Linked DNA regions of Homo sapiens: region 2 is linked to region 1. The links come from fine-mapping of genetic effects on plasma protein levels. A gene starts in region 1. The other region holds a variant in brackets. All regions are shown on one strand. Distances are from middle to middle.

The links. A credible set is the group of variants that fine-mapping cannot tell apart. PIP is the chance, under the fine-mapping model, that this variant and not a neighbour inherited with it causes the effect. The UK Biobank Pharma Proteomics Project read protein levels with antibody pairs (Olink). The fine-mapping took linkage between variants from a reference panel, not from the people measured, so its PIPs are less certain.
Region 2: its variant is the best candidate, but not a certain one, in a credible set for the plasma level of the CCN5 protein (UK Biobank, PIP 0.88).

What each region holds. Positions count from the first base shown.
Region 1 is chr20:44,707,009-44,718,499 of GRCh38, reverse strand. It overlaps CCN5 (cellular communication network factor 5), which reads right to left and starts at 3,131. Exons shown (of 4, transcript NM_003881.4): 1 at 3,050-3,131. The coding sequence starts at 3,109. It overlaps KCNK15-AS1 (KCNK15 and WISP2 antisense RNA 1), which reads left to right. Exons shown (of 5, transcript NR_132377.1): 4 at 1,707-1,875; 5 at 6,512-6,638. It overlaps LOC124904911 (a long non-coding RNA gene), which reads left to right and starts at 3,726. Exons shown (of 2, transcript XR_007067598.1): 1 at 3,726-4,559; 2 at 9,030-10,097. RefSeq lists a silencer at 3,538-3,832.
Region 2 is chr20:44,689,778-44,701,268 of GRCh38, reverse strand. No RefSeq gene overlaps it. Among named protein-coding and RNA genes, the nearest start is that of CCN5, 20 kb to the left of the region's middle. RefSeq lists an enhancer at 4,010-4,059 and a silencer at 4,750-4,799. The variant C/T (reference allele first, on the strand shown) is at 7,009.

The DNA.
Region 1 (11,491 bases):
GGAAGTATAATTCAAGATGCTTCCAGTGGCCCCATCTTTGGGGGGCCAAGTTTGAGTTTAGTAGGATCCTTAGGGGATGAGGGTTTCATCTAGAGGAATGGAGGCTTGCAGTTTATAATGATGGAATTAATGACCTCATATCTCCTGTGCAGCCCCAAAGCAGGCAATGACCCCTTTGCTCTGCCTCACCCTCTGCCCCGCCCAGTGCCCCCACTACCCACAATCCTGCAAACCTGCTTTCAGTTCCCGGCAACTCCCACGCCGGCCACTAGGAGCCATTGCAAACTGGCTGACCAGCCTCTGGTGGGGGCCACAAAGTAGGAGGCGATCACAGCCCCCACTGAGACAGCACTGAGTAGCAGATGGACACACGGAGCTAGGTGTCTGGCTGCCTCACAAGGGAGTGGATCCCATCGCTGCAGGCTGTTCAGATTCTAGAGACGATGGCCTAGCCTCGCCCCTCAAGGTGTGGTCTGAACTAGCAGCAGCAGCGTCATCTAGGAGCTTGTCAGAGAGGCAGCATCTGGAGCCCCTCTATAAATCCGAAGCTGAATTTTTATATAATAAATCCGAATCTGCATTTTCTTTTCTTTTTCTTTCTTTTTTTTTTTTTTCTTTTTTGAGATGGAGTCTTGCTCTGTCACCTAGGCTGGAGTGCAGTGGCACGATCTCGACTCACTGCAACCTTCGCCTCCCAGGTTCAAGCAATTCTTGGGAGGCCTCAGCCTCCCAAGTAGCTAGGATTACAGGTGCATGCCACCATGCCCAGCTAATTTTTTGTATTTTTAGTAGAGACGGGGTTTCACCATGCTGGCCAGGCTGGTCTCAAACTCCTGACCTCATGATCCACCCACCTCGGCCTCCCAAAGTGCTGGGATTACAGGCATGAGCCACCACGCCCAGCCCGAATCTGCATTTTCATAAATCCACAGGTGATTCACATAGAAACGGTCTAGGCTTTTGGGTTCCCTTCTAAGTCAGAGGTTCAGCTCCCTTGGCTTGTGGGCAATGGAGGGAGGACTGTCAGAAATGACTCTCAGGTCCCTCCCACCTGAAAACAGGAGTGCCAGGAAATAGACCAGCAGCTGTGCACCTTGGCTCCCACTGTGGACCCCTCTACTGGCCATGCTTGTCAGGGGGCAGGACTCTGTAGGCCCCGATACCCAGGAGAGGCTATTAATGATATCAACTATTCTAGTGTACAATTATCTCATGTGATACCATATGTATGTCATGTGCCAAGTGCTGTTGTCTCATTTACCCCTCCAATGTGAGGTGCCATCATTATGCCCATTTTAAAGATGAGAAAACTGGAGCTCAAACCGTGTAGTAACACAGCCAGTAAGAGACAGAATCAGGATTGACATCCAAGTTCAAGTTGACATCCAAGGCCCAAACTCAAGTTGTCCCATTGTGCCTCAGTTTCCCCAGGGCCTTGCTGTGATATCTGGTGGTGGGGGGCAAGGCTCATGATATCTGGGGCAGGAGTACTGGGCATGGAGTTTTTTGGGCAAGAGTTGAGATTCAAGTTCTGCCAGTGACTTGCTACGTGACTGAACATGTGGACAAACGGCTTTGGAAGGTGGAGGTGAAGCTCAGTTTTCTCCTCTGTAAACTGGAGTAGAGACAACCTGTTTCTGAGTGATGATGGAGATTAAATGAGGTTCTGGCCAGTCCTTGATCAATGTGATTTTGCTTGTGTCCAGGTGTCTGCCTCCTGCCCCGGTCCACAGCCAGGAGCCCCGGAGCCAACGGCCAGCCTGGAAGACTTACAGTTCTCCCTCTGAGGGTTGCTGTGGCTTTCCATGTTGTGGTGACTAAGTCCCTGTGTTTCTGTGCAGTCCCTGCTTCCTGGGACCAGGGAAGAATGGTCCCGTAAGTCTCACCCTAATGGCAAGTCTAGGACAGCTTTACTTTGTTCTCGTATAATCCTGGGCCCCTTCTCCCTCCTAGAGCCCCAAGTCCCCTATTCCAACTACCCAAGCCACCCACACTGGCATCATGCCCTACCCATCCCCTTTGGAAGAACAAACAGCAGGACAGGATGCCAGCGTGGTTCTCAGGCTTCCCAGGCACGAAGACTTGGAGCCTGAGGGAGAGAAGCTCCTGCCCGTGCTCCTCAAAGGAGCGTGAAAATACAGTGAGATCGTGGCTTGTGGTGGGGCCGATTCCATGGCTCTGGGAACTCAGCATTTGCCGAGGGGATGACAAGGCTTAGCAGCTGTGGCCTTGGTCCAGTTTGGGCTTGGGGAGGCACAGACTGGAGTGCTTCTCCCCCTACATCCATGTCATTCTGGGCTCCACCATGGCTCTCCTCTATTGCTCTGACCTTTCTTTGCTGTGTGGCTTTGGGCAAGTTGCTTACCCTTTCTGAGCCTCACTTGACTGAAAACTGGGGTTGCAAGTTGCTTACCCTTTCTGAGCCTCACTTAACTGAAAATTCCTTATGGGATTGTTGTGCATGTTAGACAAGGTAGATGTCCCACAGGCTCTTTGGTGAATGTCCCATGCAGCATTCAGGGATAAGGCCATTACTCCACAGAGGTGTCTCCTGTTCCCCTCTAGCTAGGGCGGGCGGGTCACTCACTGCCTAAGAGTCCAACAGCATTGATGCCCTTGCAGAATGAACCTTCCAATCAGCTAGGCATCCATCCAAATGCTGGCTCAGAGTTAGGCCAAGCATGTCATGTCTTGAGTGCCCCCATTCATAATGAGGATACATTAAAGTCCTCTTCAATTTGCCTGGTAAGTTTGATGAATGATCATGAATGGTCTTCACAGAGGCCTCACAAACTGTATACCCTTCACCTGGGAAGATGCTGAGGCCCAGAGAAGGCAAGACACATATCTGAGGTCACACAGCAGGGCTGGCCGGAGGCAGCTCTGAGTTCCAGGGAGAGAAGCCCTGCTTAGGCATGGGGGCCAGACTGTGCCCAATGTGGGGCCCTGGAGGAATTCTGCCAAGGGGGTCCTTGGCTGCGATTTTACATCCCCACCCCCTCCACACCCAAATAGTCAGCAGTGCATTCCAGGGCCCGGGCCTCCTTACCTTTGAGAGGAGGCAGAGGAGGGAGAAGGCCAGGAGGTGGGTCTTCGGTGTGCCTCTCATGTCCCCTGCAGAGCCAGCTTTGAGCCTGGGAGGCGGACCTGTGAGTCTTTATGTTCCGGCAGCTGTGAGGTCACTCCCAGGCACACACAGGCACACGCACGAGTACACACGCGCGCGCGCGCGCGCGCTCACACACACACACACACACACACACACACACAAACACACTAGCTTTTTCATTCCTTGCTTCGCTTCCCATCCTCATGGCTCAAAGGATGAGCCCATTTACCTGAAGGTGAAACTGTGAAGGCCACCAAGGGGGTGCCTGTCCGTGTGTGTGTGTGTGTGTGTGTGCGCGTGTGTGTGTGTGAAAGCCTGAGCCAGTGCCAGCACCAAGAGCCTGTGACAGCTTGCAGAGGCCTCTCCAGCTCCTTCCAGCCCAAGAGGGTCCTAGCCCTGCTGTAGTTGTGAAGCCCTATTCCAGACCCCCTGTCCGAACCCCAGCGGGGCTGCAGATACCAGAAGCATTCAGTAAACAACCCCTTTGCAGAGCTGACCCAAGGTCTCCTAAGCTCCGTGGCCCTGACTCTGGGTAGCCGCGGCCCAGCCTGCGGTTTCTGGCAGGCAGATTGGCAGCCACCCAGAGGTGGGTGTGACCCAGAGCAAAACTTCCCTGGGCGGCCTGTTTGCTCTTGGCAATAAGGGGCCTCCCTTGGCCTGCCTCCCGGCTCTGGAAGGGGGCCCGTGGTGGGCGAGTCCGGGCAGGCTGGACCTACTATGTGCCAGCGCTTGCTGGGCACCGCTAGATGATGGGGTCAAGCCAAATCCATTTGGTTTCATTCGGCCGCCTCTGAGTTCGCCTCTGCAGGAGCTGGAGGCACAACACTGACCTGAGGACAAGGCCCAGAGAGGGAGAAAACAGAGGGAAAACAGGTGGAAGTTCAGGAATACCAGGCAAGGTCCCTTGCTCAGACCAAGAGTGAGGGACACTTTCTGATGGAGGTGCCATTTCAGAAAGCCAAGAAAAGAGAGGGTGAGAGAGGGCAGAATGTTCCAGGCCAAGGGAACAGTACGTACCAACGCCTAGATGTCGGACATAGCATGATAGCCTGCTTATTCTGGGAGCCAAAGCGCCTGGTATGAGTGGAGCCTTCTGTGCAACGGGAAATGGTGATGTCTGTGAAGGGTGAGACACACAAGTTCACATCACCAAGATTTGGGGACATCTACTATGTGCCAGCCATGGGGGCGGGGGACAGAAAGACATGGGCTTTGTTTGTAGAATTTGGCAAAGATAAAAGAGGTGATGTCAAGGGCTGTCTGGGGCCCCCATTACCTCCACCAGTAGTTGTCCAAACCTCAAAGTGATCTAGCTGGATAGCAGAGGTTCCAGAATGGGCGATTGGTGAGGAAGAAGTGTGACTTGATATAGTGGCAAGACGGGGATTGTGAGCATGGAGGAGATTCCCCACGGGTGCTGTCCCATCGGAAGAGGCAATGGAAACGGAAGGTGAAGATGAAAGTGTGGGATTTGATTATTTATGGCAGGAAGAGGTGGCCAGGGTGGAGATGGGGGTCTGGAAACTTGGAGGAAAAGAAACAGAAGGGATCTTTTAAATTTTGTTTTATTTTTTGGGATTCTTGTGGAAATGCTAATGTTTTAGTCAGAAGCATGCCTAGAATAATTTACATCCACAGTGGATCATTTTTAACACCCCTCTTCCTTCATAGTACAAAATTATTTTCAGTAATAATCATGAAACAAAACAAATATTTTTCATGTATGAATTAAAATTTGCACTTACCAAACAAAATCATTACCATTCACAGTTCACACTGTTTTACTCTTTTAAAAACTGTAAATACAAATCAAAACTCCAAGTAGTTTCGTAAAATGACAAAATTGAAATACCCTTATCGTCATCTTTCCCATCATTCTGCGTTCATAGTTGATTTCACTCTACTGTTTAAACACAGAAATACAGCTGGGCCGGTGGCTCACGTCTGTAATTTGGGAGGCCAAAGTGGGAGAACCACCTGAGATCAGGAGTTCAAGGCCAGCCTGGCCAACATGGTGAAACCCGTCCCTACTAAAAAAAAAAATACAAAAATTAGCCGGACGTGGTGGGTGCACACCTATAGTCCCAAGTACTCAGGAGGCTGAGGCAGGAGAATTGCTTGAACCCGGGAGGTGGAGGTGGCAGTGAACCGACATCTTGCCGCTGCACTCCAGCCTGGGCGACAGAGAGAGACTCTGTCACACACACAAAATAATAATAAAAATAAATGCAGAAATATGAATGCTGGACGGTGGAGACAGGAATGCATTCAAAGCAAGCTTGGAAGATTCCAGAGTTGTGAGGAGCTTACTCTCAACTGATGTGTGTTCCTGAGACCACATGCTCTGGGGGCAACTATAGGATTCTTAAAGTTCTCCAAGTCAAGTTGACTTCCATGTAGAATATGTTTATTAAAGGATAAGAATAAAAATGTGCTGATTTGAAGCTTTACATATACATTATTAAACCCCAACAGTTACTGCACCAATTGTTAGAACTTAGATCAATAAAGGGTATTTTCAGGACAAAGTATTTTACCACTGAAATTATTTAGATCTGCCATTGCACAGTGATCATAAAAGCAGACTGACTTCTCATCAGTTTTATTTTATCTTTAAATTCTGTAGGCCCCCCACCCGTTATTGCCTGCATCCAGGAAAGGTCACTCCGACTTTCCTGTCCTCCCTAGGCCACTGATATTAATAAAAATAAAAGCAATTGTGTATAGCACCCAGCAAGATCCAGCCCTTGTGCTAAGCACTGTTTATAAAAAGCAGCATTTCTAATCCTCATGATCCACATCTCAATTGAAAAAAGTGAGGTTCAGAAAGGTTAAGTAACTTGCCTAAAGCTACACAGCTAGAAAACAGAGCCAGGTTTTCAGTGCGGGTTCATATGACTCCAACACCCAAGTTTCAGTTTTTGATGCTGTTTATTTCTGCTACTGTCCATAGAGCTCTCTGTGATAATGTTTTTTAAGTTGAGAGGTAATGTATATACAGAAAAGTGCTTAAAGTGCACTAATATGAAGTGTAGAGCTTGACAACTCTTTCTTTCTTTCTTTCTTTCTTTCTTTCTTTCTTTCTTTCTTTCTTTCTTTCTTTCTTTCTTTCTTTCCTTTCTTTCTTTCTTTTTTTTGAGACAGAGTCTCACTCTGTCTCCCAGGCTAGAGTGCAATGGCATGAACATGGCTCACTGCAGCCTCAGCCTCCTGGGTTCAAGGGATCCTCCCTCTTCAACCTTCTGAGTAGCTGGTGGCATGAGGCAGCATGTTTGGCTAATTTTGACTCTTGACATATGTATATACATGACTGTATATACCCATGTGATAATCACCCAGGTCAAGCTACACTTCCAGAAGTTTCCTTATGCCCCTTCCAAGACTCTACCCTCTGTCCTCCAGGTACCCGCTATTCTGACCTCTGTGGCCACTGATTAGTTGTTCCTGAAAGGAACAGTTTTAAGCCACTTCTATCTCTGAGGCAAGAAGGAAGACGGGAGAAATGAGGAGGTGTGAGGAAGAGAGTTGGAGGGAGACACGCTGGTCCCAGCCATGTCCATAGCAGAGCAAGGAGACCTTGACAATGAGGAGGTGAGGTGGGCCATGGGTGCCACGTATGGTGAAGAAGACAGGGCCATACGGGGCAGGGAGGTGGCAAGAACGAGGCAGAGTGCTATGCCCACCTAGGGCCCTCTGAGTCAGAGCATGGATTTTTCTTGGAACTTTTTCTGTCTGATAACTGAGGATGGGAAAGTGTGGGCAGTAGGGGCCCTGGGGCCTGGCCAGATCAGGAAGCAGGCGTCATCATCAAGGGTGTTTGGTGATGAAGTGTGAGGGATGGAGCTTGCACACACAGTTCAGCATGAGTGGGTGTGGCAGGAGCGGTGGGAGCTGCCACTTTGCTGATTGGTTTGCTGCGGTTCAGCCCTCCCTTCAAACTGTCCAATTTTGGCACCAGAGGGATATAAGCATCCAGGGAACCCATGAGTCTTTTGGCTGCAGCCGCAGCCCCCACACAAGGGCCCAGGGTGAGTGTGGCTGTCCTTTGCTTTCCCAGGAGGAAGCACAAGCTCAGAAGTCAACAGGTCCGAGCTTCAAATCCCGGCTCCCGCTACCGACTTACAGGGCTGGGACCAGGGTGAGGTGACAGAGGCATGTCGGGTATAACATTTAGGGAGGCTCTCATTCTCAGCTGCTGACCTTGCACTTGCACAACCCCAAGAGTGAGCACCTCATTCAGAATGAGGCACCCAGGTCACACAGGAGTTCATGGTAGGAACTCAGTCAATGTTGGTTGATGGCTAAATGACAATTTCCGTAAGACTGTGCTGAGATCACAAACTAATGCCCACATCTCAGTGGCTTAACCCAGTGAAGCTAATTTCTTGCTCGTGAATGGTCCAAAGTGGGCCAGGCACATCCTGTAGCTCCTCCCTACTCAAGTGTGTGGTCCAAGGACCGATGGCATCAGCATCAGCTGGTTGCATGTTGGAAATGCAGACTCCCAGACCCCACTATCAGGATCTGCATTTTAGTAAGACCCCCAGGTGATTTGCATGCACATTACAGTTTGTGAATCCCTGTTCTAGACCGGTGGCCTCCAAGGTCACCTTGGCAGGAAAAAAGAGGGATGGAGAAGCCACATCATCACTTCTACTCACATCTTATTAGTCAGAGCTAGCCACATGGCCCCAACTTAACTGCAAGGAAGGCGGGGAAATACCATCATTCCATGTGTATCAATGAAGGAGAACCAGAGTGAGGGACATCTAGGTAATATTCTTTGCCGCAGGTACCTTGGCATCTGGGACACACACTTTTGCTTCTCTGGGTCTCAGTTTCTCCATCTGTTAAAAAAAAATAAAAATAAAAGCGGCCTGCATGTTCTTCCAGGCCTGGGCCAGGCTGAACATTTTTAGCGTCTAAGAAATGCATCTGGCCGTGCGCGGTGGCTCACGCCTGTCATCCCAGCACTTTGGGAGGCCGAGGCAGGCAGATCACTTGAGGTCAGGAGTTCGTGACCAGCCTGGACAACATGGCAAAACCTTGTCTCTACTAAAAATACAAAAATTAGCTGGGCGTGGTGGCCCGTATCTGTAATCTCAGCTACTCAGGAGGCTGAGGCAGGAGAATTGCTTGAAACCGGGAGGCGGAGGATGCGGTGAGCCCAGATCGCGCCACTGTACTCCAGCCTGGGCCACAGAGTGAGACTCCATCTCAAAAAAAAAAAAAAAAAAAAAATGCATCTGAAAAGTGAAACTTACGAAACATCACCATCAAGGTACAGCATATGGAAGCCACAAGTAAATATCTGCGGTTGAAAGCCCTTTGCAGTTTGTCAGCTCCCGAGGTGTGTGCCCGCTTTCCCGCTTACGGCCTCTACCCCATGCCAAGTCCCAAGCCGACGCTGGGGAGGTGGAGCTCACAGGTGTGACATTAGGTAGTGGGGACAGAGAAATACAAAACAGATCCTGACCCCAGCAGGGCTGGAAGTGAGGAGGGGCAGTGCTGTAGTGGCTGGATGTACCAGGGTGTGAGGGGACACCTGTACCATGGGAAGGTCAACAGTCAGGTGAAAATCCCAACTCCGCTGCTAATTTGCTTTGTGGCTGTGTGTAAATTCCCTCACTTCTCTGGACCTCAGTGCCCCAGTTTCGTGTTTTGGAGACTGAGATCTGTGACAGAGCCTGATCAATGCCCATTCCAATATCCTTCTTCCCTCCTCCCTCAGTCACCAAACACTGATTTTTTTGTTTGGGGTGGCGACGCACTCAGCTTTGCAGGAGGCGGGGCCACGGGATAGGTTCCAGCACGGAGATACAAGCAGGAGTGTTGTGTGCCGATTCTGGAAAGGCTCCTTAAAAGGAAGGGCTTCCCTTTGGTGACTCCACCACCACTGATTGCTGCCTCCTGCTTCCAGTCAGTAATACGGACGTGATGGTGGAGTTCTGCAGCCATCTTGGACCATGAGGGTACCCTGAGGATGGACTTCGTGTGCAGAAGAGGGCGAAGGAGAAATAAAGGAACTCAGATCCCTGATGACACCCAGAGCTGCCAAATGCACCCTACATGTAGATTTCATTCATGTGATTAGAAACATAATAATGTGTGTGTGTGTGTGTGTGTGTGTGTGTGTGTGGTGTGTAGAGAGAGATATAATGTTTTATATATATACGCTATTTTTATACTTATGTATATATATACCTTTATTTATTTATTTATTTTGAGACAGAATCTCGCTCTGTTGCCTAGGCTCGAGTGCAGTGGCGCAATTACGGCTCACTGCAGCCTCCACCTCCTGGAATCAAGCAGTTCTCCCACCTTAGCCCCCTTAGTAGCTGGGACTACAGGTGTGTGCCACCATGCCCGGCTAAATGTTTTTTTAAAAAATTTTGGCAATATGTTGCCCAGGCTGGTCTTGAACTCCTGAGCTTAAGCAGTCCTCCCACCTCGGCCTCCCAAAGTGCTGGGATTACAGGCGTGAGCCACCATAGCCAGCTGTGCTTTTAAAATGTGTGCATGTGTGTATATATATATGTATATGCATTTTATATATAATATATTTATATGTATATATTATTTTAAAACCTTTCTATTTAAGTCAAAATTATGTTGTGTTTTTCTGGTTAGTTATTGCTGATGTAAAAGCGTCATTGATTTTTGTTGCTGACTGTGTATCTGGCAACCTTGCTGAACTCTCTTATTTGTTCTAATATTTTGTCAGTTTATTTGGTTGGTTTTTCAAGGTAGATGATCACACCATCTACAAACAATGACAGTTTTATCTCTTCCCTTCCAATAATTACACCTCTTATTTTCTTTCCTTGTAGCTCAGCCCAGCTCTCCAGCTCTATGTATTAAACAGTAGCAGTAATAACTAGCATTCTTGCCTTGTTCCTCACCTTAAAAGGCATGTATTATATAAAACTTTTCTCCACTAGCAATATTTTCTGTAGGTTTTTGGTATTAAAAATCCCTACTAAATTAAGGAACTTCTCTCATGCTCCTAGTTTGCTAAGAATTTTTAAAAATCATAAATACATAAAGACCTTATCAAAACCTTTTTCTGCATCAGCTGACATCGTTGGATTTTTCCTTTTGATTGAATGATGTAGTGAGTTACACTGGTGGATTTTCAGATGTGGATACTTTTCTGGGATAAACCCTTCCTGATGGTGATGTAGTATCATTATTTTAACTCTGCTAGACTCAGTCAGGAAAGATTTTGTTTAGTGTTTTCCTATCCATATTCATAAGTGAAATGGACCTATACTTTCCTTTGTGGTATTGTCTTATCTGGCTTTTATAATCAAGACAACACTTTTAAAATAAGATAGGTTGGTTTTTTTTTCTTTTGTTTTCTTTTTAAGCAACTTGCATATGATACGAATTAATTGTTTCTAAAAAGTTTCTGCAGGCTGGGCGCGGTGGCTCACACCTGTAATCCCAGCACTTTGGGAGGCCTAGATAGGTGGATCGTTTGAGTCCAGGAGTTTAAGACCAGCCTGGGCAACATAGCAAAACCCCATCTCTACTAAAAATACAAAAATTAGCTGGGTGTGGTGGTGCATGCCTGTAGTTCCAGCTACGTGAGGGGCTGAGGCAGGAGGATACCTGAGCCTTGGGAAGCAGAGGTTGCAGTGAGCCAGGATTGGGCCACTACACCCTAGCCTGGGCGACAGAATGAGACCTTGTCTCAAAAAAAAAAAAAAAAAAAAAAAGGTTCAGCAGTACTTACCCATGAGAACATCTAGGCTGATTTTTAGGGGAGTGGGAGGGCTTTGACACCATTACAGTTTCTGTAATACTGATTGACCTACTGAAATTCTCTATTTCTTCTTGGGCCCATCTTTTGACATTTTATACCTTTCTATTAATTTCTCCATTTTCCCAGAATTTTCAAATTTGTAAGCATCATAAATACAAAAGGAACTTATCAAAAAATTTTTCCACATCAATTGACATCATAGATTTTCCTTTGGATCTAATGATGTAGTGAATTACACTGGTGGATTTTCTGGAATGTTTTTCCGGGATAAACGCTTCCTGATGGTGATGTGGTGTCATTATTTTAACTCTGCTGAATTCAGTCAGCAAATATTTTGTTTAGTGTTTTTCTATCTATATATTCATAAGTGAAATGGGCCTATAATTTTCTTTTTTGTATTGTTCATAACAGCTCTTAAATTAACTTCAAATTCCTTGGTCAACGTTGTTCCCCCTTTTTACTCGGCATTTGATTTTACTCCCTTGCCTCATACTTCTTTCATCCTGATCAATGTCATCAGGATTCTCTACCTCATGTTGATTTCATCCTAGACATGGCTTCTGGTTCTGTTCGTCTTCTGCAGTCTTCCTTTGTTCTCCAATTCATTGATTTGT
Region 2 (11,491 bases), 17 kb after region 1:
CCAGCGACCTGTGTGTGGAATAGCAACAACTGTGGTGTGCAGGTCTGGGGTGTGTGAATTTTGGGAGCAACAGGTGGTGGGGTTGAGGAACATCTGCAAACAGCCTTGAATACCGGGGCAGGGTTTTAGACTATCCTGTGGGGTAGGAGTCCCCAGAGAGTTCCAAGCAGGGCCTGCATGTGGCCAGGATGGAAGATGAATTACAAAGAAAGGAGTGAGAGGCTGGGAGAAAACCTATTTGCTCAAATAACAAGGCTCAGTATCATTACCATGGAGGAGCTGTCTCCCCTAAATCAAAACTTGCCTGCCTGGAGTTCCACTTCATTTTAAACAATGTGTGCATGTATTGGGGGGTCCCAGAGCCTGGGCATGGAGCAGCTAGGCTTCAAGTCCTTGGAGCCCCGAAATATGCCTTCCTTCCCACCCCAGCCCCAGCGCCTTCAATGCCTTCCTCTGGGGTTAACCCCATTGTGGCCACAGTGGCTGCCAGCAGGGAGGAGGCACAGAGGTGGTGGGAACAGGGCTGAGGGGCACACAGGATCCTCAGCAGCCAGCTTCACCCCCCAGCTTATCCAGGATTCAGACAAGTCCAAGTTCAGATCTTGGATCTGCCATAGACGTGAGATGCGACCCTGGCTGGGTGCCTTGAGGTCTTGACACCTGAGCTACCACACTGGTCACATAAAGACAATAATCAATGCAAGGGCAGCGTGAGGACTGTGGAGACCCTGGGCGGCAGGTGTGCAGCGCGGCGCCACCCCTGCTCTGGTACAGTGTGAGTGCTCAACGCTGTTGTTATTACTATAGCCTACAGCAGAAGCCGCCGTCTGGTCTGGGAAGGACTTGGAAACGCCCTGCTGTGGCCTAGAGATGCACAGAGAGCATCTGTCCCTCTGCCCAGGACCTGACTTAGCTCAGGGAGGCCAGTTTCCCCCAGTGAGCAATGGGGCCCCTGCTTGGAGCCATCTGCGTGTACCCTGCAGGGCAGAAGCTGGTGAAGAGTGGAAGAGGCAGTGTTCTGGGTTCCATCCCTTGGGTTTTAGGGATTAAGCCATCTTGATTCTACCCTCAGCTCCATCCTTTTCTAACAATGCATCCTTGGGCAAGTTACTCAATTTTTAAGTGCCTCCATTTCCTCATTTGAAAAATGGGTATAATCATAGTCCCTACCTCATAGGATCATTGTAAAGATGAGATGAAATCCAGCATGTAAATGCTTAGCCCAGGGCTTGGCACATGGTGAGCACTTGGTAAATATTAGCAATCATTGTTTCCAGGCTGTCGACACAGAGGAGGAGACATGGGACAAGGAACCAGTAAATAATGGGAATCAAACCATGCTACAAGGGGATAAATAATAAAAAGGGTATAATATGTACAAGTGGAGGGAGAGACGAAGGCCATGGCAAGAGGTCCAAGGCAGGGCCACTGCTGGGAAACAGGCCCAGCCAACCTCAGAAAGGCAGTCAATAAAAATAATAGGAACAGGCTGGGTGCGGTGGTTCACGCCTGTAATCCTAGCCCAGCACTTTGGGAGGCCTAGGCAGGTGGATTACTTGAAATTAGGAGTTCTAGATCAGCCTGGCCAACATGGCGAAACCCCGTCTCTACTAAAAATACAAAAATTGGCCAGGTGCGGTGGCTCACGCCTGTAATCCCAGCACTTTAGGAGGCCGAGGCGGGCGGATCACGGGGTCAGGAGATCGAGACCATCCTGGCTAACACGGTGAAACCCTGTCTCTACTAAAAATACAAAAAAATTAGCCAGGCGTGGTGGTGGGCACCTGTAGTCCCAGCTACTCAGGAGGCTGAGGCAGGAGAATGGCGTGAACCCGGGAGGCGGAGTTTGCAGTGAGCCGAGATCACACCACTGCAGTCCAGCCTGGGCGACAGAGCGAGACTCCGTCTCAAAAAAAAAAAAAAAATTAGCCAGGCATGATGGTGCACACCTGCAATCCAGCTACTCAGGAGGCTGAGGCAGGGGAATCACTTGAATCCGGAAGGCAGAAGTTGCAGTGAGCCAAGATCGTGCTACTGCACTCCAGCCTGGGTGACACAGCGAGACTCTCTCTCAAAAAAAAAAAAAAAAAAAAAAAAAAAAAGAACAATAACAGAATTTTCCCCACAAGTGAGCACTAAGGGCATGCTACATGCTGTGCTAACATGCTTTGTATACAATATCTCATTTCCTTCCCACGACAACCCTGGGAGGCAGGGCTGGGGCCAGGTTGAGGCAGCAAGGTGACCAGGGTGCAAATCTACCGAGGCCCTCACCCCGGGGCCTGAGCAAGTGCAGGGTTGGCGCCTCAGAACAAGCACCTCCCTAAATGTTATGCCTTGAGCACCTGGCTGGCTTCACCCTAGTCCCAGCCCTGCTGAGAGGTTGGTATAATATTTAGTCCCATTAGATTGATGTGAAAACCAAAGTCCCCCCACATGAGGCACCTGTCCAGTGAATGTCACATAGCTGGGGAGGAAGAGGCAGACCCCAGGATTTTGAAGCCTAGAGTTATTTTTACTCTGAGGAGCTGCCTCCCAGCCTGGACATGGAAGGTTCCAGTCCACCTCCCAGTGGTCCAATAACTGGAAGAGCTGCTTAGAACCACCCTCTTCTGGCTGGCCTGGGTGGCTGGGAGAGCTGGCCTCCTGGGTGGAGGTCTGGAGATTCCTCTCCACATTCCTAGGGGTTAAATCTGGGGACCCGGGTTCCCAGCATCAGCCATCACGTTCCCCAGAAGGAATCTCTATTCATAACAAACCCTAAAGGTCACTCGTCTGGGAAGGAGTCTTCTGTCTCCACCCCAGGGCAGGACAGAAGGCCCCAGGCTTTGTGAGAGCATCAGGTCCCCAGAGGAAGATCACCTGCTTTTGGCCAGCCTGTGAGCCCCTCTTCTTCCTCTGGGTCTCCTCTGTAGATGGTATCTAAAGAGGATGAATAAACATCCCAGTTGGAGATGAATGGCCATTGCCCGCAGAGAGCAATTGTGCGCTAAATGCATGGGCTCTGAACTCAGCCTGCCTGAGCTCAAATCCCCCTTTCATCACCTGCCAACCATGTGGCCTTGGGGAAGTTACTTTTCCTCTCTGTGCCTTAGTTTCCTCTTCTGTAAAATGGGGGATAATAACACCTACCGCACAGGGTTGTCATGAGGATTTAACGCCTTCTACTCACTCAGCAACTATTTGCTGAAGGCCTACCAACTTCCAGGCAGTGAGTAATATGGCAGTGAATACAACAGACAAAACTCCTTACCTTCATTTTTTTTTTTTTTTTTTGAGATGGAGTCTCGCTCTGTCGCCCAGGCTGGAATGCAGTGGCACCATCTCGGCTCACCGCAGGCTCTACCTCCCGGGTTCATGCCATTCTCCTGCCTCAGCCTCCCAAGTAGCTGGGACTACAGGCACCCGCCACCACGCCCGGCTAATTTTTTGTATTTTTAGTAGAGACAGGGTTTCACCATGTTAGCCAGAATGGTCTTGATCTCCTGATCTCGTGATCCGCCCACCTCCGCCTCCCAAAGTGCTGGGATTATAGGCGTGAGACACCGCGCCCGGCCATCTTCAATTTTTTAAAAGGAAATATAGTGAAGAATATTATATACTTCAGAAAATGCCAGCACCAAAAAACATGATGCAAATACAGTAAAATGTTAACAGTTGGAAATCTAGATGATGGGTAAGCGGTAAATGGGTCTTCATGATAGGTTTTCTGTATGTTTGAAGTTTTTTATAAATAAAAGGGAAAAGAAAAAAGAGGGAGAGAGAGAGAGAGGAATATCTGCCATTTTGAAACTTACAGTCAAGTGGGGAAATAGACAATAAACACATCAGTATAGCTGGACGTGGTGGCACGTGCCTGTAGTCCCAGCTATTCGGGAGGCTGAGGCAGGAGAATCGCTTTAACCTGGGAGGTGGAGGTTGCAGTGAGCTGAGATCGTGCCACTGCACTCCAGCCTGGGTGCAGCCTGGGTGACAGAGTGAGACTCCATCTCAAGAAAAAAAAAAAAAAAAAATGAAAACTTGTGGTGTGTCAATTGATGTTAAGAAGAGGAATAGAGAATGGCCAGGGTGGTAGAGGAAGTTCCTTTTAAGTCAGGCAGTCAGGGAAGGCCTCCCTGGGAAAGTGACAGGGAAAGTGACATCAGACAGGAGAGCCTAGTTCTCCCAGCTTCCAGGCCTAGGTGCTCCCAGTGTCCATGTACAACCTTCTGCCCAGGAAAAGAGTCATTGTCAAAGCCCAGGACCCAAGCCTCTTGAGACTGTGGGATCTTGAATTATGTGCAGCAGATATTCTCAGTCTGAAATTCAGATGGGCTGGAAATGTAATCTATTTTAAATTCATTCTCATTTCAATGCTCCATTCCATATGTGGGCAGAAAATTCATCTTATTCAATTGGGATTTTTTTCCCCAACCCCATCACTTTCCCAGCTCCATTCATTTTTTTTCCCCAATTGTATCTAGGCGTGAGGTTGTCTCTGGCCCTCTTGGCCATTTTATCTCTTGAGATCCTCCCTGCTCTCTGCTTCTGAATTCTTCAAAGCTCTCTGGGGCCCACTGACCAACAAAATCCAAAATATGCTCACTCATAGCTTTTTCTCTGACCTCCTTCCCAGCCTTCTTAGATGGGAGGAAGGAGGGAGGGGAGGGGAGAGCTGTGCATCAGTCAGGGTAGGGTGAGTTCTGCTACAGTAACAGCAACGCTCAAGTCCTGTTTCTCAGTGGCTCCTGATGCACGTCCCCTGCTGGGCAGCTGCTGCGCTGCTCTGTGTCTCCTTGCTCCTGGATCCCAGCTGATAGAACAACCACCATTTCAACTGTTGCACAGCAGAGGGCAAGAGAAAGCATCAAGCCACAGACTGGCTCCTAAAGTCTCCCCCAGGAAGTGGCACACTTCACTTCTGCACACATTTCATTGGCCAAAGCTTGTTACTTGGCTGTACCTAACTTCAAGCAGAGGAGGGAGTTCAAGTGGAAATCCTACTATGGGCCTGTGCTGTGGTCTGAATGTGTTCCCCAAAGTTCAGATGTTGAGACCTAATCCCCACAGTGATAGCCTTAAGAGGTGGGGCCTTTGGAAGTTGATTAGGTCAGGAGGGCTCCACCCATGAATGGGATTAGTGTTCTTGTAAAAGAGGCTTGAGGGAGCCCATCTGTCCCTTCTGCCATGTGAGGACACACAGAAGTCACCATCTATAAGAAACAGGCTCCCACCAGACACTGAGTCTGCTGGAGCCTTGATCTTGAATTTCCCAACCTCCAGAACTGTGAGCAATGAATTTCTGTTGTTTATAAATTACCCAGTCTAAGATGTTTTGCTGTAGCAGCCTGAACAGACTAAGGCACCCTAAAAGGAAAAGAAACAGAGTATTTGTGGACAGTCCCTAAAGACAGTCACAGAAAGTGAGAGCCTCTTTCAGATTCATTAGGTGTTCAAGATGCCCAAGTCTCTTAGGAATGTTCTTTCCTGGGAGGAAGGGGTGTTTTTGAAACCCAGAAATGTATTCTCTGCTTTTACTAACACATCTGTTTCCTGAGTCAGTAGATGTTCTGCAGTCTAACTGCCTAAATAGGGAACAAAAAATCCAAGGAGAAAACTCGTGCAGCCTTAGATTCCTGGATTTTGAGTATCATGTAATCTTAGACTGGAATCTGAGAAAATGGGACCTGAGAATCTTGCAACCACAGATTTCAAACCTGAAAGGTCTTTGAATCTAATTTCACTTTCTATGCAGTAACTGTCTTAATAATCTTCCTTGCAGGTGGCCACCAGACTTTCTCTGCTTGTATCCTCCCAGGACCACAGAACTCATCGCATCCCAAGGCAGCCTATTCCATCATGGATGAGCTCAAAGTGTTTGAAAGTTCTGCTTTATCAAGTGAGCCAAACTTCCTCCCTCAGGACCATCCACTCCAGGGCCCAGTTATTCTACTGGAGGAGTGAGGGTAAAGCCATCACCAGGACAACCTTGGTGACAGGCTGGACTGGCAGCCAGCTTTTGGGGATGACTTCAGGGAACCCTGAATAGCCATGGGAGCCAAATGTATTACTCCTCTGATGCCTACAATTCCACTATAATAGTCTGGTGGGCTTCTGTTAGGGAGGCTTATACATGGTGGAAAGAATAAAGGCTTGGACTCAGCCTAGGTTCAAGTACTGCATCTTGACCTGGCCTGTAGGCAAGTCTTTTCACTTCTCTGAGTTTTGGCTTTCTCATTTGTCCAATAGGAATAACAATAATGATAATAATAATACCTCCCATGCAGGATTGCTAGTATGTTCAATGGGATAATATATCTAAACACCTCACACAATGCCTGGCACATAGCAGGTGTTCAATTAGGTCTGTATTAAAATCCAGGCTCTGTCTCTTATTATTTATATGTCCTTGGACTTCATTTCCTTGAACCCTAGACTCCCCATCTCTAAGGTGGGGTTGATATTACTCACATCCCACCAGGCTCTGGTCAGAATCTTTTAAGTGTTTATTTACAGATAATGTGCCAAGTTCTTTATCTGAATTGGACATTTAATCCTTTACTCTGTGGGTAGAATATTTATAATCACCCCAATGTTTTCAATGGGGAAACTAGGGCTCAGTGAGGTTGATTGACTTTGCCCAAGGTCACATGGCTGGTGAGGTGGCAGACTCAAGATTTGAGTCCAGGCATTTTGCTCCCGTGTATACACTGTGTGTATAAAGGACCTGGCACAAAGCAGCCAGGTCATTTTGTGCTTGAACTGCTGCTCTGTCCCCAACTTCCCCAAAAAAGCACAACATCCAGAGTAGGCCAAAGCTATGTTACTTGGCTCTACCTAACTTCAAGCAGAGGAGGGGTTTCAAGGGAACCAAGTATTTGTAGTGCAAAGCCACTGAGGTTTTGGAGTTATTCGTTGTAACAGCTGGCATGGCTTAACCTTGTCCTCTTAGCTGTTTTCAGCATTTGCACCTGAGTGTCAATCAGCTAGGATGTTTTAGGCTGCAAGTAATAGAATACCCTATTACTC[C/T]TGAATTCAATAATAGGTGCCTTCGCAGTCAAGAAATCTGGAGGTTACGTGGCTCCAGTTTTGGTTCATTCAGAGGTTCAGTGATGTCATCTAGGACCCGCATTTTGGCTTCAGCACCCTCAGTATATTGGCTGTAGCCCTGAGGCTTGGCCCGTCATGCTCTCAACATGGCTGCCAAAGTTCCAGACATCGCATCCTCATGCAACCACTTAAAGGGAAAGAATAGGGGACCTTCCCCACACCCCTTTTTATATAATAATTGAGGCCAGCCCTTCTCAAACCTCCTGTCCCAGCATACTTTCTTTATGTTTTATTGGCCAGAACTGGGTCATGTTCTTGTGGAAGACTACCAAGGCTCACCAATAGCCATCTTCTTCTTCCTGGGCACACATGTGGGATACATTTCCCAGCCTTCTTTGCAGTTAGATGTGGTCATGTGACTGAGCTCTGGCCAATGGGATGTAAGCAAAAATAATTGTACTGATTTCAGGTCTGGCTTATAAAAATCTTCTACCCACAATCTTTCTGCCATCTGCCTGCTGAATGGAGAGGACTCTGAGAATGAGGAAAGCCACAAATAGGAAAAGTCTCAATCCCTATATGACCTGCAGAAAACAGAGCCCTCCTGTCAAGACTTATTGCAGTTTGATGTGAGAAAGAACCAAGCATTTATAATGCAAAGCCACTGAGGTTTTGGAGTTATTTGTTACAGCAGTCAACATGGCTAAACCCAAGGCATAGAAGGACGGAGCTCAGGGAGACAGCTGCCTTCCTCACATGCTGGGGCTAAGAGGGGTGCGAGCAGGGAGGAGAAGGGCTTCTGTAGATGTCCAAATCTGACCCAGGCCAGCTTCCACCACTGTCTAGCTGTGTGACTCTGGGCAAGTGCATGACCCTTTCTGAGCCTCCTTAAATAGTTACGTGAGGCAGTGGGACTGGAGGCTCTCACCCTAAGTGCCCATATGATTATGACATTCACTGACTCCTTCCTCACAGCAGCCAGTGGCCAAAGAGAAAGGGTGTGGCTCCCCTAGGGGCTCCGGGTCAGGGTCACTGCTCTGTCTGGAATCTGGGCTCTGCTGCCCAGAACGGCCCTCCTGATGTCTGGAATTCCACCATGAGTGACTCATGCCTTTGGGAAGCCACTGCCCTGACCCCACTGAGTAATAACAATAACAGCCCCTCGTGGCTTTTTCTTTGCTGAGAGTTTCATAGTCCATGGTCTAATCTGGTCCCCAGCACACGGCTGTGAGTAGGCAGTGAAGGTGGAGAGAGTTAGAATTGCCATACACGATGCAGGAAGCAATGTGCCCACAGCTACACAGCAAGTTAGTGGCCAAGCCTAGAGTCCTGGACAGTGGCTTTTTCCCCAAAAACCCTTTGCTTGAAAAGGCTGCCTCTGATATTCGTGTGTCCATGTTCATAGCAGATTATTCACAATAGCCAAAAGGTGAAAGGCACTCAAGTGTCCATTGATAGATTAGTGGATAAGCAAAATATAGTGTATCCACACAATGGAAGATTTTCAGCCTTAAAAAAGGAAGGCAATTCTGATACATGCTACAACAGGGATGAAGCTTGAGGACATTATGCTAAGTGAAATAAATCAGTCACAGAAAGATGCATACTGTGTGATTCCATTTATAGGAGGTATCTGTCAAAAGTAGTCCAATTCATAGAGACAGAAAGTGGAATTGCCAGGGGCTGGGGAGGGGGAAATGAGAAGTTTCCTTAATGGGTTTAGAATTTCAGTTTTGCAAGATGACGAGTTCTGTGGAAGGATGGTGATAGAAACTCAATAATGTGAATGTACTTAAAGCCATGCATTGTACATTTAAAATTGCTTAGATGGTAAATTTTATGTTCGGTGTGTTTTGCCAAAATGTAAAAGTTAAAAAAAAAAAAAAAAGCTCTCCTAAGAGGTAGATGCTAAGTTCTAATATTTTTCAGGACATATAAATTAGTTTACCATGATTTGTATCAGTCAGGATAGGCTAGGTCATGCTGCTGTAACAAACAGCTCCAAATTCTGACTCTAGATTAGACTGCCCTTACACTAACTCTGTTCCTCCTGGAACATTCTTCTTTACCATCCTAAACCTCTCCCTACTCTGCCTGTATCCCAAACCTGGAATAAGGCAATAGAATCAGACATACTCAAACTTGTCTGGCTGTGTGACTGTGGGCAAACCAGTTAACCTCTCTGGGCCTCAGTTTACTGATCTGAAAAATGGGGACAATAAATGAACCTTGAGAAGAGAATTCAAGGAGTATGGAAACATTTAGCATGATCTAGGGCATAGTGTCAGGCTGTGGGTATATTTAAACCTCATGCAGAGCTTGGCACCCAGGCAGGAATGGGGTAGGCTTCAGTCTCCTGCCAGTCAGGCCCTCAGCCTGAACAATCTCGAGAACACCTTCTTCCAGCCAGCCTTGCGTCAGGGCCGGGGAATGGGTGGGACAGGAGCCAGAGGCTGCAGAGACAGCCGTCTAGCGCCTGGGATACTTTTCTCCCCAATAATCTGTTTTCAATCTTTCATTATTATATTTTTTTCTTTTTTGAAAGCCATCCTGCCAAGCAACAGGCATGCAAGTGTAGTCAACTCCCAGCCCAGCCTACATCAAAGTCTTTGCGAATTTCTGCTTTGAATCATGGGGTAGGGGACCCTGCCTTATATCACATGTGTCCAGCCTCCACACTTTTGCAAGTGTGCTGTTTCCACACCCTGCCATGCCCCATGCCCTCTGTCTTTCCAGATTCTGTTCACCATCTGTCAAGGCTTGGCCACAGGGCTCTCCCCTGCCAACAGCTCTCTGATGTCTCTCCCTCCCTTGTTAACACAACCCCTACAGTCTCACCAGAGCTGGGGACATGTATTGAATTCTCATCTTCTTTATTTAACACCTTTGAGGGCAGGGACAGCATCATCCACTTTGTCTGATGACTTTCATGAATCGATAAAGTGTTTTTTGTCACCACCATACCAATGGCAGGAGAGATGATGAGGATGTTTATCCCCATTTTACAGATGAGAACATGGAGGTCATGAGACCGGAAGTGATAGTCACCCGGTTGGGGAATCAGGCCCTCTATCCCGACGCCCTCGCTCTCTCTAATCTACCCTGCTGGGCTGAGCACACAGTAGGTGTGTGCCTAAATGTGCATGAGTAGGGGGCTGGGCAAAGGCTGGGGACTGGCAAGCTCTTCCCTGAACTCATTTCCTCTTCTGCCTGGACAAGCAGTGAGTCTACATTTCCAACCTTCCTTGCGAGGAAAACAAAGTCTTCCAGTGGACTGATTATGAAAGCGGGCCAGATTCTGCACCACTATCTGTTTCCACACCCCTTTGCAATGTGACTTTGCCTTCGTTCTCTCCAATGTGGGTTGGCTTTGGGACTCTCTTTGGTCCATTGAATGTGGTGGAAGTGACCTTGTGCTAGTTCTGAGCCTGAGCCTCAAAAAGAATGCAGTCCTTGCAGTCTCTCTCTCTCTCTCTCTCCCACCCTCTGCTCCCCACCTTCCCCCACCCCCCTGAACCTGACCCACCCCCGCCAGCCTCCTCCACCATGAGACAAGCCAAGGCTAGCCCACTGGAGAATGGGACCAACTCTTTTTTTTGAGACGAAGTCTCACTCACTTTGTCATCCAGGCTGGAGTACAGTGGGGCAACCTCTGCTCGTTGCAACCTCTGCCTCCCAGGTTCAAGCGATTCTTCTGCCCCAGCCTCCCAAGTAGCTGGGACTACAGGCACACACCACCATGCCTGGATAATTTTTGTATTTTTAGTAGAGGCAGGTTTTGCCATGTTGGCCAGGCTGGTCTCGAACTCCTGACCTCAAGTGATCCACCTGTCTCGGACTCCCAAAGTGTGCCTGGCCCCAATTCTTACATAAGACAGTTCTACCATCACTTTAAGTCACAAACATGGTCTCAACTCAAATTTAAAATGTCCAGTCAAGCTATTAATCCAAACTCCCAATTGGATCTAGGTTTAAACCTTCTCCCCTTGCCCAGCTGGGGCCTGTCCTGGGGAGGCAGTTTGGGGGGCTCCTTCTCTGGACCTCCTCCCCTCCCCCACAAGTGGGGGCTGTGGAGATAGTAAGGGGAGGGGAAGGGTCTCACTTGAGCTGCCGCCATCCTGCTGGCTTCCAGCTGACAGTGTCACAGATGTCCCACAGATGGCCATTGCTGCAGGGCTCCCTCACTCTTGACCCTGGGGGGGATGCACTTCTCCTTCTGGAGGTCCCTTGCAAGTCCTTCCTCGGCCCTCAGGAATCCAACATCCAACTCCAGCTTCTTGCTGCTAAGACCACTCCACCCTCCAGGAGGCCCTAGGGAACAAGACCCAAGCAGACCCCTGCAAGCTACCCCCACCCCAGCCCACAACGAATCCCCAAACCCTTCCATGTCCCCTGCCTGGCATCTGGAGGGGCAGTATTGGCCCCCTCTGGGTGAGGTCTCATAGCTGGAGCTGCCGCTCCT